Homo sapiens: one gene and its partners. The protein of the gene in region 1 purifies or fractionates together with the protein of each later gene. This does not show direct contact. Each region holds a gene or a part of one and is shown in the gene's direction. Other genes may lie near its edges.

What was found.
Region 2: the proteins of MARK4 (region 1) and MTCL1 purify together in Homo sapiens (affinity purification with mass spectrometry; one large-scale study listed by BioGRID and IntAct). This does not show direct contact.
Region 3: the proteins of MARK4 (region 1) and MTCL2 purify together in Homo sapiens (affinity purification with mass spectrometry; one large-scale study listed by BioGRID and IntAct). This does not show direct contact.

What each region holds. Positions count from the first base shown.
Region 1 is NC_000019.10:45,257,711-45,261,360, forward strand, and holds part of MARK4 (MAP/microtubule affinity-regulating kinase 4), read left to right. Parts: intron 1-1,278; coding exon 1,279-1,479; intron 1,480-3,650. UniProt on the Homo sapiens protein: Serine/threonine-protein kinase. Phosphorylates the microtubule-associated protein MAPT/TAU. Also phosphorylates the microtubule-associated proteins MAP2 and MAP4.
Region 2 is NC_000018.10:8,820,420-8,824,069, forward strand, and holds part of MTCL1 (microtubule cross-linking factor 1), read left to right. Parts: intron 1-1,047; coding exon 1,048-1,079; intron 1,080-3,650. UniProt on the Homo sapiens protein: Microtubule-associated factor involved in the late phase of epithelial polarization and microtubule dynamics regulation.
Region 3 is NC_000020.11:36,794,008-36,797,657, reverse strand, and holds part of MTCL2 (microtubule cross-linking factor 2), read left to right. Parts: intron 1-84; coding exon 85-156; intron 157-705; coding exon 706-776; intron 777-3,058; coding exon 3,059-3,650. UniProt on the Homo sapiens protein: Microtubule-associated factor that enables integration of the centrosomal and Golgi-associated microtubules on the Golgi membrane, supporting directional migration. Preferentially acts on the perinuclear microtubules accumulated around the Golgi.

The sequences.
Region 1 (3,650 bases):
ACAGAGTCTCGCTCTGTCACCCAGGCTGGAGTGCAGCGGCGCGATCTCGGCTCACTGCAAGCTCCACCTCCTGGGTTCATGCCATTCTCCTGCCTCAGCCTCCCAAGTAGCTGGGACTACAGGCGCATACTGCCACGCCTGGCTAATTTTTTGTATTTTTAGTAGAGATGGGGTTTCACCTTGTTAGCCAGGATGGTCTCAATCTCCTGACCTCGTGATCTGCCCGCCTCGGCCTCCCAAAGTGCTGGAATTACAGGTGTGAGCCACCATGCCTGGCCTTTTTTTTTTTTTTTTAGACCAAGTCTCACTCTATCACTCTGGCTAGAGTGCAGTAGAGCGATCTCGGCTCACTACAACCTCTGCCTCCCAGGTTCAAGTGATTCTCCTGCCTCAGCCTCCAGAGTAGCTGGGATTACAGGCGTGTGCCAATGCCTGGCTAATTTTTGTATTTTTTTAGTAGAGATGGGGTTTTCACCATATTGGCCAGGCTGGTCTCGAACTCCTGACCTCATGATCCACCCACCTCAGCCTCCCAAAGTGCTGGGATTACAGGCCTGAGCCACTGCACCTGGCCACCTGGCCCATAATTTTTATATGCACTGGGAATCCAAAAGATTCATGTGCATTGCTTTTTTGCAGTATTTGCTTTATTGCGGTGGTCTGGAACCAAACTTGCGATATCTCTGAGGTATGTGTGTAATTAGAAAAGGAGGTTGGGGCTGGATGCGGTGGCTCACATCTGTAATCCGTACAGCCGAGGCAGGTGGATCACCTGAGTCAGGGGTTTGAGACCAGCTTAGTCAACATGGTGAAACCCCGTCTCTACTAAAAATACAGAAATTAGCCAGGCATGATGGTGCACGCCTGTAATCCCAGCTGCTCGGGAGGCTGAGGCAGGAAAATGGCTTGAACCCGGGAGGCAGAGGTTGCAGTGAGCTGAGATCGTGCCACTGCACTCCAGCCTGGGTGACAGAGGAAGACTCCATCCGAAGGAAAAAAAAAAAGACAAGGAGGTTGGGGGTAGTCAGACTGCAGTGAGGGTTGAAGAAGGGGTGTGATGCCTGGGGCCCTGAATGTTGCAGATTTGGAGGACATGGGGGCTTTTGTTCCTGGAGGCGTCTTTTTGTAGAGAAAGATGAAGGATGCTTGGCTCTCTGGGGCCTGAGTTTGAAAAGGGCCACGGAGGGGCCGGTAGCCAGGCCTCAAGTTAAGTGCACTAGCCCACGGGTTCCACGGAAGGTGGGATTGGATAGCTCATGCTCCATCTCCCCCGCCCAGCATGGCACCTTGGGCAGTGGCCGCTCCTCGGACAAAGGCCCGTCCTGGTCCAGCCGCTCACTGGGTGCCCGTTGCCGGAACTCCATCGCCTCCTGTCCCGAGGAGCAGCCCCACGTGGGCAACTACCGCCTGCTGAGGACCATTGGGAAGGGCAACTTTGCCAAAGTCAAGCTGGCTCGGCACATCCTCACTGGTCGGGAGGTGAGTATGGGCACAGGGTGGGGCTCGGGGCAGGTCCCTGTGGGACCAGGTCTTCGGTGTATGTTGATAGAGGTCAGGATTGGCCCTGGGTTTGCTTTGTGGCCTCAGGTAAGTTCCCGACTCTCTATGGGACAGGTCACAATATCTCTGATGTTCCCAGAACCACCCCCATGGGAAAAGAGAACTAATTTCATGTATCCCTGAAATTGCCGGGAAATCTCAGATCACAGGCAGTCCAATGTGTGCGTTGCTAAGGATGCATGTGGCTTTTGTAGATAAACCTGAGCTGTGGCCGGATGCATTGGCTCACACGTGTAATCCCAGCACTTTGAAAGGCCAAGGCAGGAGGATTCCTTGAGCTCAGGAGTTTGAGACCAGCCTGGGCAACATAGCAACACTTTGTCTCCACTAAAAAATAAGTAAAATTTTTTAAAAATTAGCTGGGTGCGGTGGTGTGTGCCTGTGGTCCCAGCTACTTGGGAGGCTGAGGCGGGAGGATCGCTTGAGCTCAGGAGTTTGAGGCTGCGGTGAGGTGTGACCTCACCACTGCACTCCAGCCTGGGTAACAGAGTGAGACCCTATCTCAAAAAATAAAAATAAAATAAAATAAAAGAGGGCTGGGCATGGTGGCTTACGCCTGTAATCCCAGTACTTTGGGAAGCTGAGGCAGGTGGATTGCTTGAGGTCAGGAGTTCGAGACCAGCCTGACCAACATGATGAAACCCTGTCTCTATTAAAAATACAAAAATTAGCTGGGCGTGGTGGCACATGCCTATAATCTCAGCTGCTCAGTAGGCTGAGCCAGGAGAATCGCTTGAACCCAGGAGGCGGAGGTTTCAGTGAGCCGAGATCATGCCACTGCACTCCAGCCTGGGTGACAGAGTGAGACTCTGTCTCAAAAAAATAAAAAAATTAAAAGGCCGTGCGCGGTGGCTCACTCCTATAGTCCCAGCACTTTGGGAGGCCAAGGCAAGTGGATCACCTGAGGTCAGGAGTTCAAGACCAGCCTGGCCAACATGGTAAAACCCCGTCTCTACTAAAAATATAAAGATTAGCTTGGTGTGATAGCAGGCACCTGTAATTTCAGCTACTTGGGAGGCTGAGGCAGGAGAATTGCTTGAGCCCAGGAGGCAGAGGTTGCAATGAGCCAAGATGGTGCCACTGTATTCCGCCTGGGCAACAAGACCGAGACTTTGTCTCAAAAAAAAAAAAAAAAAATTGGCCGAGTGCAGTGGCTCATACCAACAAACACAGCGCTTTGGGAGGCCGAGGCAGGTGGATCACCTGAGGTCAGGAGTTCGAGACCAGCCTGGCCAACATGGCAAAACCCCATCTTTACTGAAAAAAAAATACAAAAATTAGCTGGGTGTGGTGGTGCGTGCCTGTAAGCCCAGCTACCTGGAAGGCTGAGGCAGGAGAATCACTGGAACCCAGGAGGCGAAGGCCGCAGTGAGCCGAGATTGTGCCACTGCACTCCAGCCTGGGTGACAGAGCAAGACCATCTCAAAAAATAAATAAATAAATAAATAAATAGTAAATAAATTAAAAATAAAAAATAAATAAACCTGAGCTGCCTCTCTGTTTTAAGGGTGGACTTTGGTTCCTTGAAATCTTCCTGTGATCTGGAGAACACAGCAGGTTTATTTATGTTGTATTCTCAGTTACACACAGCCTCACTCTCCCCACCACCTCTTCCAGAGCAGGCATCTGTGCTGAGTATGGTGACATTATTGCAAAAAGGGCCCACACAGGCTTTGCAGCCTAGATATGAGGTCTCTAACTCACTTAGAGGAAAAGGAATGGTGGGTGATTTCATGATTTCCCCACCCCTCCTTCAACTTCAGAGAAATGATTGGAATGAATTATCCTGCCTTGGATGGACTCTCCCCTGCCCTCACGCTGTCTACACCATACACGCAAAAGACACCGGGCCCCGATGGTCTTACAGGCAAATCCTACCAGATGTTCACATTTTATGCCAGTTCTTCCAGAGACTAAAGAAAGAACTGCCACTGCCTGACTGATTTTTACGCGCTAGTTTGTCCTTAAGAGCAAAACCAGACAAGAAACAAAATTACAGGCCAATCTGGTGAACATAGGTATAAAAATCTTATACAAAATATTAACAAACAGAACCTGGCAAATCAATTAAAGAAAGCTGTGTGATGACG
Region 2 (3,650 bases), on another chromosome or scaffold:
GTTGATTCTAGGACTCATTACCTGTGAAGCAGTTCAACAGTTGCTGCACCTATCATTTGGTCTCCTAAACACTCAAGACTTAGAAGAGTTCATATCAAATAGTGTTATTGAAGTATGCAGAAATTATATTTCACCCACATCAGTAAGGTCAAATGCCTTATCCTCAGCAATGTGTACCAGGTTGATAGGACATTGCCACAGTCCCACCCTGTCTGATCTATTGGCAATCTTATACAGTCCGATTACATAGTAGAGGTAACGTGGGGTGGGGTCAGGAGCCTGTGCGTGGGTTCCAGCCCACTGGACCCTGCATGGCAGAGACAAGGGGCATGCTCATTAAGGGGAAGGGTACCCCTTGCTATTTACTGTCTTGAAAAATATGCTTCCCTTACTGTTAGTCAGAGTCTTGCTGCTTCAAAACCACATCAGCACAAGAGTGTTTTCTCAGCAGACAACCTCGTGTTTATGCCGTTCTCTACAAACACAGCTATCATTCTTCTTAAAGGGGAAGGCACTGTACTTTGCCTCTGATTCTAAATGGGAATGTTTAAAACCAACCAAGTGCCCGAGTCTAAGGATGTCACGCCAACTTCTACAGCAAGATCGGGACCACTAACGTTACTCTATCACCTTCCATCTTTCTCTCTAACATAACACATGCACACTCTCTCTCTCTCTCTCAGTCTCACTCTCACACTTAGGTTGTTACAAATCCCGCTTTGAAATTCATGTAGTCAGTGAGGTCCTTTGAGGAAGCACAGAAGAGCCACCTCCTCCATGACAAAGTTTATAGCCAGTTGTTCTCACTCATGTGGGCTTCTCCCTGGACTACAGAAGCTCCAGCCCCTCATCATGCTGTGGACTCGCTTTGATGATTGTACTTTAAAGGCCTCAGGGCAGTAGCACTCCTAACCAGAGCTTGGCCTCAGTGCACATTTTAAATGGTGGTTTCCTGGGGGTGCAGAGCAAACAAATCACTTAAGTACATTCAGGGCTTCTGGACAACCAAAATTAACCGATTCAGATGAAGTTATTTCTTCTTTATAGGAAGAAGAAAATCACAAAGGAAATCTTCAAAGGTAAGTAAGATTGATGAAAATAATAGATTACTAGAATAAAAATGTCTTGGTCTTAAAATGTTGTTTTGTCAATGCAGTCTATTTTACCACTCTCTTCAAAATGACTTAAAATTATGCCACTTCTGAAGAAGTGGCTGCTTTATTATTCATTTCATAAACATGGTATTTTTGATTATTAACAAAGAAGTTAGACGTGCTGTGTCACATGTGTATGAGTTTTATGGTAAGGACTTTCCAGTTGTTGTTGTGTTATGTATACAAAGGAATGCTTGTGTTGAGTGGTTTTTGAAAGGTCCATGGAAACCTCTCTTTTCTCATTTAAAGTCTGGGAAAACTCTCTTTTGTATGCTGTGAGATGCTTTATACACTGTATTTAAAAGCTCCACTAAGAGAATTTATTAAAATATTTTCTGGCAGTAGTCCTTGAAGAAGATATATAGTGGTTGATGTGGTTGTTAGTTACACACCAGTTTTTTCCTCCCCAGTTTAATTTCCTCCAGTTTTACTTTTTCATCATTCTCCAAATGAATACATACCGTTTCTACTACATGAAATTTCTTCTCAGGCAATTCAGCATTTCCAGATCGCCTCATCCTTGATTTTCCTCTGAACTTCGAGTCTGTGAATGACTGTCCTCTTCCCATTTGCTCCCTGCCAGATCTCTGCAGCACCTAGCCATGCCTGTGGCACACTTCTGTCCTTCACGCTGTCTTCTCTGGTCTTTCTTGGGTGGTACAGGACAGTACTTGAGAGCTCAGGCTCTAGAGCCAAACTGCCTGGGTTGGTTGGTTGGTTGGTTGGTTGGTTGATTTTTGAAATGGAGTCTCGCTCTGTCTCCCAGGCTGGAGTACAGTGGCACAATCTTGGCTCACTGCAACCTCTGCCCCCTGGGTTCAAGCAATTCTGCATCAGCCTCCCAAGTAGCTGGGATTACAGGCAAACCCCACCATACCCGGCTAATTTTTGTCTTTTAATAGAAACAGAGTTTCGCCATGTTGGCCAGGCTGGTCTCGAATTCCTGACCTCAGGTGATCCACCCGCCTCAGCCTCCCGAAGTGCTGGGATTACAGGCGTGAGCCACTGTGCCCAGCCCAAACTGCCTGGGTTTGAATCGCTTCTGCCTCCTTGGGTAGGTTACTCAACTGCTTTGTGCCTCAGTTTCCTCATCTGTATACAGGACGTATTTTGATTATCTTTTTTTTTTGCAGCTTATGTATGTTAATACACATAATGAAAGCAGCACATGGCACAAAACAAACAGTAAACAGAGTTTAGTCATTACACCCTCCCACCTTCCCCGTTCACAGCAGCAGCCACATCAGTGTTTCCGGTTAGGCTTTGGAGCAACTGTACTTCACCACTCAAGCCATCAACTTTTATGCTTTCAAAAGTAACACATGCTTGTTATAAAATGTAAATATTGGCTGAGGCAGGAAAATTGACCGAACCCGGGAGGCGGAGGTTGCAGTGAACCGAGATTGCGCCACTGCACTACATCCTGGGCGACAGAGTAAGACTCCGTCTCAAAAAAAAAAAAAGATAGATAGATAGATAGATAGTCTCAAAATATCCAAAGTGGAAACTGGATGCGCCCTCCCCACTGTCCCCATGTCCTCTGATTCTGACTGCCCGGTATGTTTCCACCATACTCTCTTCGTTCCACCTGCAAGCGCCTACACATGCTCCAGATGTATCCCGGGTTTTCTCATCATGGTTTTGTTTGCTTTGGCCACTGCTGAGGTTAATGCCTCTGCTTTCTCTGTCTTTATCATCTCTGTTCCACCATATCCATCCATGCCCCAGAGGCACTGAGTTCCCACCCAGGTAGGTGCCACTGATTTAACTCTGAGACAGTTCCTCTGTGGGCAAAAGTGGGAGTTAGATGAGCTATGTCCACAGAAATGTGGAAAGGACCAGGGTGTTGGCATGTGTCCGGCACTTACAGTCCCCAGCGAACAGTGTTCTGAAACTCATCATTAATTCAGCAACTCCTTGAATTGAGAAGAGGGAAATTCATACTTGCTGGAAAGCTCATGACCTTGGGACAAATCAACCCATCCCTACCATTGCCCTTCCTTTCCGGCACTGGATATAGCCAGCTTGTGGTTATTCAAAGCACCACTGGACAGTTTGTAGATTATTTCTAACAACAAAAAGATAACAAGATGGAATGCCTAACGATGTCACTTTTAGCCTGCTGTTTTACCCCGTGGTGCTGACCACATGGACGGGTGCCTTGCCCCCAAGGTGAAGCCAGCTGTCAGCAAAGCTGCCCAGAGCTTTGCTGGTTCTGTGTACCAGCGCACACGGTACAGGGACTTGCTCAGAGCAGACCCCAATTCTGGCCTCATCATCATTAATAGGTCCTATGGAGGAGTGGTCCATACACTCAATCTGGGACCCCTTCCACAGGGCCTGCACTAGTCTAGATCCCTAGGTTTAAGCCTGTGCTTTGTGGGGTGAAAGGAGTATCAGTATGTCCTGTAAGAATCTGGACAGTGAGTCTACAGACACCTCATCGCCCCATCCCACCCCAGCTGGAGGGATTCCAGGCCAAAGAGGTTCTGTTGC
Region 3 (3,650 bases), on another chromosome or scaffold:
AGTCTGGGGAATGGCCTTGCTTAGAGCAGGGTCCTGCATACCAGCTTTGCCCATTACCGACCCACCCTCTCTGCCCTTGCCCAGCTGCAGAAGGCTGCCGACCCCTGGGTCCTGAAGCACTCGGAGCTGGAGAAGCAGGACAACAGCTGGAAGGAGGTGAGTGGGGCGGCTGCTGCCATGCTATCTTGGCTCCTGGCTGCACCATAAAGGTCCCTGCTTGTGGGGGACATGAGAGGAAGTTGCTAACCCTGTCTCATAGGTCACACCCTTGCACCTTGGGCTCCTCAGCCCTGGAGTCTGTATCTCATGGTTCCTGCCTCAAAAAAATAAAAAAAAAACCCAACCACCCAGGGACTGGGCTAAGTGAGGGGGTAGGGTTGAGGAGGAAGAAGACAAGCCCACCACCAGCTGAGCAGTGGACCACTGGATGCTTTGTTGCAGTCACCACATTTGGATTAAATTTTAAGTGGTCCCTTTCCTTGGGTGGGTCACTCTTGGAGCTCTGATTGGCCCAGCCTGGATCACATATGGTGGGGGAGTTGGATGCAGGGCAGCCAGAAACTGACCATGCTAGATCATTGATGACATCATTCCTGCTCTCCGGATGAGGAGATTCAAGCACTGAGGTCGGGGCTGGTCTCTTGTTCCATGCCCTTAGTGCTCTGGTGGCCAGAACTGACCCTTCCTGTCTCTCTTCCTTGACAGACACGCAGTGAGAAGATCCACGACAAGGAGGCTGTTTCCGAAGTTGAGCTTGGAGGAAATGGTTTAAAGAGGTGCTTGCATGCTGGTCCCCTGCTCTGCCTCTCTGACCGGCCCCACAGCCTCGCCCCTCTCCACCTCCTGCTGCGCCCTGCACCCACTCTACCTGCTTTCACCGCAGCCCTGCCCCGCCCCTTTGCCCTCTTCCTGCCGCCACCCCACCGCATCCAAGTTGGGAGAGCATCGGGATATGGTTTCTCTGGAACCCGAGCCACTCAGGAGCTGGAAGGCTTGGGGCAGTGGGAATTCCAGGCTGCTGCATGTTGTTTGAGTCCGGGAATGGAACACAGGTGGAAACAAAACATTTTGCTCCTCTTGGGATTCTTTTCTCCTGCCTCTGGAGTTAGGAGAGTCAAGATTGACCTCTATTCCTGGGATTATTGAGCAGCATCCTTTGGGCCCAGCCCTGTGCTATGGCCAAGGAGACCCCCACCCCAAGACCATAAGGACCACGTCTCCACTGTTAGGAAACCCATGAAAGGAGTCAGGGAAACAGAACCCCCAGCCGCTATCAGACCAGCCCAGAAGCAAGGCAGGCGGGACAGGCTGTGGAGCCAGAGGGCCAGGTTTGAATGCCAGCCCTGCCAGTTCTAGCTCTATGACCTTGACCTTGAGCAGTACTTCCCATCTCTGTCTAGTGGGGATGATAGGAGCTGCCTCTTGAAGTTAATCAGAGTGGTCTGACACGTGCATTTCCATATGCCTGGTGTGTTCAGTGATTCAGGCAATAGGTGTGCCAGGAGCTTCATGGCGTCTTAGTTTGGGTTCCCCCATAAGCAAACCCTGAGACAAAGATTTAAGTGCAAATGGTTTATTTGGGACAGAATTTCAGGAAACACTTGGAAGTGAGACAGGGAAGGGAAAGCAGCCGATAAAAGGAGCTTCAACCAGGTTATTCCACGGGCAACTGGAGTTCAGGCTGTCGGAGGAACTCAGGGAGCCAGAGGAGAACATGCAGCTTAGAGTCATCCCACCACAAGGAGGCTGGGGCACTTGTTCACCATATCCCACCTATTGTTTGTTGAGGGCTGTGTTTAGGGGTGTGAACTCATTAACTCTGTGCTATCTCTAGCTTCGGTTTGGGCGTGTGTTTTGTTTTTTTTGTTTTTGTTTTTTTTTTGAGGCAGAGTTTTGCTCTGTCTCCCAGGGTGGAGTGCAATGGCACAATCTTAGTTTACTGCAACCTCCACCTCCCAGGTTCAAGCAATTCTCCTGCCTCAGCCTCCTGAGTAGCTGGGGTTACAGGCTAACGCCACCACGCTTGGCTAATTTTTGTATTTTTACTAAGAGATAGGGTTTTACCATCTTGGTCAGGCTAGTCTCAAACTCCTGACCTCAGGTGATCTGCCTGCCTCAGCATCCCAAAGTGCTGGGTCTAGCTTCTTCTATGTGTAGGACAGCCAAGTATGATCCCACAGGCAGAAAAAAAAACCATCAGATAGAGAATGGTGGAGTATGCAGTTCAGAGTATGCAGTTTTAGGTGTATAGGTGAAAGTGCAAAGAGAGGCCAGGTGCAGTGGCTCATGCCTCTAATCCCAGCATTTTGAGAGGCAGAGGCAGGAAGATCTCTTGAGGCCAGAAGTTTGAGACCAGCCTGGGCAACATAGGGAGATCCCCATCTCTACAAAAAATTTTTTAAAAATTAGCCAGGTGTTAGGCTGGGCACAGTGGCTCACATCTGTAATCCCAGCACTTTGGGAGGCTGAGGCGGGTGGATCACCTGAGGTCAGGAGTTCCAGACCAGCCTGGCCAACATGGTGAAACCCCGTCTCTACTAAAAATACAAAAATTAGCTGGGCGTGGTGGCGCACGCCTGTAATTTCATCTGCTCCGGATGCTGAGACAGGAGAATCTCTTGAACCTGGAGGGTGGAAGTTGTAGTGAGCCGAGATCATGCCACTGCACTCCAGCCTGGGTGACAGAACAAGACTCTGTCTCAAGAAAAAAAAAAGAAAAAAAAAAGCCAGGTTTGGTGGTGCACACCTGTAGTCCCAGCTACTCTGGAGGCTGAAATGGGAGGATCACTTGAGCCCAGGAGTTTGAGGCTGCAGTGAGCTATTATTGCACTACTGCATTCCAGCCTGGGTGACATATCAAGACCTGTTTGGGAGAAAAAAAAAAAAAAGAAAATGCAGACAGAATGTGGGACTGGGCACCAACAACATCTCTACAAGAGGTGAACAAGACGGTCCTGGTCTTTGCCCTCACGCAGCACACGGACCAGGGTGGTAGACCAGAGTGTGCCCTCAGTGTTATTTCCACTAATAACGACGTTTCCTCCTCTGTCCTTCGCAGAACCAAATCTGTTTCTTCCATGTCTGAGTTTGAAAGTTTGCTCGACTGTTCCCCTTACCTTGCTGGCGGAGATGCCCGGGGCAAGAAGCTGCCTAACAACCCTGCCTTTGGCTTTGTGAGCTCCGAGCCAGGGGATCCAGAGAAAGACACCAAGGAGAAGCCTGGGCTCTCGTCGAGGGACTGCAACCACCTGGGTGCCCTGGCCTGCCAGGACCCCCCAGGGAGGCAGATGCAGCGCAGCTACACGGCTCCTGACAAGACGGGCATCCGAGTCTACTATAGTCCCCCGGTGGCCCGGCGCCTCGGAGTCCCTGTGGTTCATGACAAAGAGGGCAAGATCATTATCGAGCCCGGCTTCCTCTTCACCACAGCCAAGCCCAAAGAGTCGGCCGAGGCTGATGGGCTGGCTGAGAGCTCCTATGGTCGGTGGCTCTGCAACTTCTCACGGCAGCGCCTGGACGGAGGCTCAGCGGGCAGCCCCTCGGCGGCCGGGCCTGGCTTCCCAGCGGCCCTGCATGACTTTGAGATGTCAGGCAACATGAGTGATGACATGAAGGAGATCACCAACTGTGTGCGCCAGGCCATGCGCTCC